Regions from separate parts of the Homo sapiens genome. Here region 1 is linked to region 2. The links come from fine-mapping of genetic effects on plasma protein levels. A gene starts in region 2. The other region holds a variant in brackets. All regions are shown on one strand. Distances are from middle to middle. Region 1 overlaps BMPER (BMP binding endothelial regulator). Region 2 holds the start of BMPER (BMP binding endothelial regulator).

Evidence for each region. PIP is the chance, under the fine-mapping model, that this variant and not a neighbour inherited with it causes the effect. Protein levels are from antibody-based Olink assays in UK Biobank. Linkage for the fine-mapping came from a reference panel and not from the study's own genotypes, which makes the PIPs less certain.
Region 1: its variant is fine-mapped to the plasma level of the BMPER protein (UK Biobank, PIP above 0.99).

Annotation. Positions count from the first base shown.
Region 1 is chr7:34,153,088-34,156,013 of GRCh38, reverse strand. BMPER (BMP binding endothelial regulator) reads right to left here. Exons shown (of 15, transcript NM_001365308.1): 15 at 1-2,922. The coding sequence ends at 2,741. Among named protein-coding and RNA genes, the nearest start is that of BMPER, 250 kb to the right of the region's middle. The variant T/C (reference allele first, on the strand shown) is at 1,524.
Region 2 is chr7:33,905,351-33,908,246 of GRCh38, reverse strand. BMPER (BMP binding endothelial regulator) reads right to left here and starts at 2,708. Exons shown (of 15, transcript NM_001365308.1): 1 at 2,501-2,708; 2 at 1,344-1,429. The coding sequence starts at 2,633.

The DNA.
Region 1 (2,926 bases), 250 kb before region 2:
AATTTTAGGTCAGGACCCTCAAATATTCCTATTTACAGAGGGAGAGAAGAAAGAACTTAGTTTTACTGAGTACCAACAATGGGCAATTAGAATCATAATTATGCTTGTTCTTCATTGAGGGTGCTTGTTTCTCATCAAATTCAATATTCATAGAACATTTTTATTTCAAGTCATCTCACTCTGCAAGAGCTTAGTTGAAGAACCAATTGAAAACATCCCATGTGAATGAAACAGGACTGCTCTCATTGAAGCACTTGGTAAATCCTCATTGTGCCCAATCATTAGACTAAGCCATTGCTCAGCTGTAGCCTGTGGCCTAAAAAAGAATATGCAGGCCAACCATTCAGCTGATTTCCTCACCCTCTCCCATCAGAGATGGCTCTTTGAATTAGTAAACCCAAGTAATTTTCTGTCCTCTCTGCCCTCCCTTTCTTCTTCAATTAGAAATGAGAAAAATGTACAGAGATTAAGCTAATCCCCAGCTAAAGGAATGCCACACAAACTTGTAATCAACCCACCCAAGATGATGAAACCGGCTCATGCAGAAGAGCTTTCATCATTCACCCATCCTGGCTGCCATGATTAAGTGTTGGGAAAGAGGCCGGTTAGCCTCATGGGGAGAATAACTCAGTCCTTGGATGAATCATGAGCTATAAATAACCATCCACAATTCTCCCTTCTCCATCATTTCCCTTATGCTGCCCTCTTTCAAAGATGAGAACCAACAGTGAACTGAAAAGGGATTTAAAGCTAATCTTAAGGAATCTGTTCGTTTTACAGAAGGTAGGAACCACCAGGCAACGTCAACTGATTTTCCCTACCCCTCCTGTCAGGGCAGAGCAGGGAATCAATGAGATTACAAGTAGGAAAGTATTTGCAAACCCTCAGTGCCTCCCATTACTGCCCAAAGTCTCCTAGCCTGTTAGTGGCAGGGGTCTAGTTTTCCCGATTCTCAACCCTGCTCACTATACTACATGGCCTCTTTGTGTTACAGATAAGCAAAAGTGAGACCCCCAAATGCTTAAATAATGGGGATAGTCACAAACCACACTTAGATCCCAAAGCACCTAAGTCAAAGTCTTCTTTCCAAGGGCAGCATTGAAACAATGACCTGACTACCTCAGGCTGCAGATACGAGGGTGATTAGTATCCAAACACAGGAATGAAAAAAAACACAAAGGCCCAGTGCCCCCAGCCAGTCACTATTACGCCCTGCACTTTATTCAGTTAATTCAAACAACTAGGGATTTTCCAGTCAAAAAAAAAAAAAAAAATTCCAAGTTAATACTTTAGCTGTCATGAATGTAAAAGAAACATAAATGTCTTTGACGAGCATTGGCAATATGCTGGCTTGTCAAAAACGTGGGTTTGCTTTTGTCTATTAATAATAGTCTTTATATATACTGTTGTAAGATACAAAAATTATAACTAAATACAGCTGTTAAAATTTAATGAATCTGAAGTTGATACAACTAATTGTAAAGTATAACACAGGACATCTTGAGAGAGAAAATGCATTGTTT[T/C]ACATCTTAAGCCCTTTATTGACTACAATGCAGAACATTTTATTTTAAGACACAGTGGGTTTTGTTTTTGTTGATGTTTTCACCAATTCAACTGAAGACGAAAGTCAAGACAATCAAATGGTAACTAGTAGCAGCCTATCAGTAAATGAGGGCAAGTATAGAGACTGTTCTTTGGACTGAGGTTAAATCAATTAGTCAATAAAGGCTTTTCCACTGTCTAATAATTATAACATATTAACAGTCGCCAAATAGTGTTGGATGGGACTCCTCTAGAAATAACTAAAGCCTTTCATTTTATACATGAAATAGCCACAAAATGTAGATGGGTTACATCAACTCATTGGATTTGCCCATCTTAAATTACTCTGAGATTCAGAGAAATCAAAATTTCATCATATGTTGTGCAACAGTTTCTTCAAATACTTTCTCATGCTCAATAAAATTAACATGGCATCCAGACACCCTTTAATTTCAACACATGACATATAAATGGTCACATCCATCATACACACATAGATGATTAGAAGACTTGAGGACTACGCAAGGATGGCAAGAAATCACTTGATTCTTCGGTTATGCCCTAGTGACAAATATATATTTCTTGGCAACCAGCCAATCAATTTTGGAAATAATGTTAGCCCATGACCTAATACATTCTAACAGCCTATCACTCGCTTTTCATGCACCATTAGGGCCGGTCACCAATCTCCTGCTGTCTTTCCCAGGCATACATTCCTTTCTTTGGAAACCTGAAATGCCCCTAGATAAATGTGCCCTTCTCCAGAGAAACACATTTCCCACTCCATTACAAATCCTGACTCAAAACTAAAATTAATACAGGCAGGCAATTGAGGGCTCTTAGAAAACTTCCTTAAAAATGACAAATGTATGTGATGTTAACACTATCCAATGTATCTGCATGCCACCTTATTAAATTAAAAACACCTGGTGTATTTATACAACATGTTCAATGGCTTACAGGTTAGGATCCTAGAAACAATACATGTCTTATAGCAAAAAATATACATATAATAATCCCCCTATAGTTCATATAAATGATGCAATGTTTTTGAATATATCTATATATATATACACATATATACTCTGTGTGTGTGTGTTTACAGAATCGGGCACACAAATACTGCAGTCCTTCATTGGCTCTTCCGCTTCAGTGTCAAAGTCACCAGATTTCAGAGTCTTAAGGATCGAAACAAAGGTCACCGCTGGGGACAAAGGACTGGCTTGATGCACCTTCCCTTGTGAAGGACCAAGTTTGCTGGACAGTGGCACCCAGCAACGCACGGCTTGTTGCATGGACCAATTTCATTCCAGTTGTCACACGTCTTGATACATCCCGGACCACAGGTATCGTACACAGCACCATGCTTACACTGGGTGGCTGA
Region 2 (2,896 bases):
CATTACACAGATAAGAAAAATAAAAAAGGAAGATTAAACACACATACACACACACTGCATTTGTAAATCTACAACTGAGTCAAAATTTAAACTGAAAGCTTCTTTTCAACAAATTATTTACTAAAAGATCATCAATGAACACAGCAACCCATAAATATGCAATCATAATACACCCTCTCTCAGCTCTGTTTTATTAGGCAGCAATATTTATTGTGTCAGCAAACGCAGTGCGTTTTTACTTGTTTCTGTTGATTTCCTTAGTCTTCCGAACCTGATAATTGTTTGATACAGCCATTTACCTTCACCCATTTATCACTTCAAAACATTGACCTCAACTCTTGTCATGAAAAAATTTATGTAGTATAAACTCAGATAGCTTGGCTTTTGCCTAAACCGAAATGAATTCCTTCTCCAGCGCCACACAGCATGCTGATCTAGCAACAAGTAGTCCTCTATCATTCTGGGGCTTTGCATTTGACTGCCTTAATGTATTTCCAACAAGGTTTTATAATGTGTAGTTTCTAACCAAATTTTGCCAAAAGTGATTGGCATGTAAAACACTCCTAAGCAAAAATGTTTACCTTGTAGGTCTATATTTCATCTCAGAAATTCTTATTCACATTACTTAATCTCCCCCAAGTGGTTACTTATTAGACTTATCATTAACTACTAAACTAAAATAAATGGAAACAAATTATTTTTTGAGTCTTCTAACCACTGATAGTGTTAACTAAGCAGCTGACAGCCAAGTGTCATTCTCTATTAAGGATGGAATTGTCCTTTCCGACTCATGCTTCCAAATCAGAAATAAAGACAGTATTTGAGGGTTTAGGGTATAACAGGCAAAGAAACCCGAGAAAGAAATCCAGAATTACATCTTGTCCTTATGTTTGTTTTTTGTGGCTGTCACCTCTCTTTCCCTTTGTCGCATACCTTATTCCTGACCTTCATACTTAAATCTTATCTCATCATTTTCCCACTGAGCTTAAATGACAGAACCAACGCAGAAAGTTTTGTTGTCCCAAGAATTTGGTTGTAGTAATCATTACTGGAAACAGACATTACAAACTGTCATTTCACCGAGACGTCATACAAAGCCTATCTGAAATTTACGTCTATAAGGATGATGTCAAAGATAAGAATTTCCAGCTGGATGAAATGGAAATTGCCAAAGTCCATAAAACTCAGAAATTAACTGGATTCAACTCACAAACTATGTACAGTTATGTGCAATTTTGTAATGATAAAGACAATTTGTAAGATCTGGTTATATTATCACATTTAATGGATTCACCTTATCAGAGAGAGCAGTTGAGTTCATATTACCTGATCTCCACACTTACCAAGCAGACACACATTATGCAAGGGTTGTCTGTGATAAATGGAATCTGGAGGACTTCACCTTCATTTTCACATTTTGCAACAGAACCTGAAATTCAGGGGGGAAAAATGTTTCATTTAAAGTTAGCTTAGCAGCATGATTTCAACATTTAAAATTTTTACACTAATCCTTTTTGAAACCTCTACCCAAACTTCAGAATTCTTAATGTGGTTTAAATTATTAAATTCACCAAAGCAAAACCTCTGCCCCCAACTCCATTTTCAATAATTTTATTTAAACAGGTTCAAAAAAGAAAAGACTATGATATAGGGATAAATTATCTGTTCTCAGATGGTCTAAGCACAATTCCAAGTATTTCACTGGATTTTTAATAACACTCCTCCTTTATGAAGATATTTCAACTAAGCACACAGCCCCATACGCAAAGAAAAAAATAAAAAATAAAATTTAAAAAAACCCTCAAATTGGGGCAGATTTTAAATTGACCAAAACTCAGAACTGAGTCAATAAACAGGCCTTTCTATGAATCTGTCTCGCATTGTCTTAGGTTTAAATCACTTTTTGAAACGCAATCCCCTTTTCCCTTCTCTTAGAAATTGACTCCATATTTTCTTTTCTGCACCAGGTGTCAGTAAAGTATGTCCTTCAGAATAGCAGCTGAGGTCTTCACCTGCCTGAAAACATATAATTATTATATCCGGCTATTAGTGCCCTTTTTAAATGATAGTTTCTTTAAATTCAAGGTCTTGAGAGCCAGTGCTTTAAAAAGCACTCCTAGCACAGTGGATGTATTGCAACCCCAAAGATGAGAAAGGAAGATGTGCGGAAAACTGCACAAATTTTTTTCCTGAGTTCTACAGAGGGAAAGATTAAAATAAAAGTTGAGGAAAGCATTAAAAATAAATAAAATAATTTCTCAAATTCAAATAGAAGAATGTCTATTATTACTACATTGAAGGCAACAGCCTCTCAGCCCGCAACCTCTTCACCAGCCTTCCCAGCCCTCCCGGGGCTTCGCTTCATCCCCATCGACCAGCGCAGGGCAAGCGCCAAGGTGCGCGCTCCCCACCCTCCCATCCCCGGGGCAAGCCAGCGCCACCTTTCCCAGGTACCAAACCGGCGTCCCGGAGGGCCGGTCCCTCCCGCCCCCTCCCCTACCTGTCAAGAAGGAGGAAGCCAGAGACATGGGGACCCCCGAGCAATTGAGTAGCAGCAAGACGCAGCACGTAATCCCAGGCGAGCGGCGGCAGTAACGCTCAGCCAGAGCCCCGACGCCGGAGAACCAGAGCATCGTCACCTGGAGGGAATCCCTGGCGACTGCAGGTCCCGCGCCGCCGCCTCTGCTCAGCTGCCGCAGCTCACAGTCGAAAAGGGCTCTCAGCCGGCGTGTCGGGAGACCGTCCGCGAAGGAGGGAGGCGGGCGCCCGAGAGCTGGGGGGCGGGGGGGTGTGAGGGAGGGCGGGGGGAGAGACCAAGGTGTGGGGGCGCCCGGGGAGGAGGGGTCCTGCGGCCAGGCTCCTCCGATGCGGCTTTTTTTTTTTTTTTCCTGAGGGA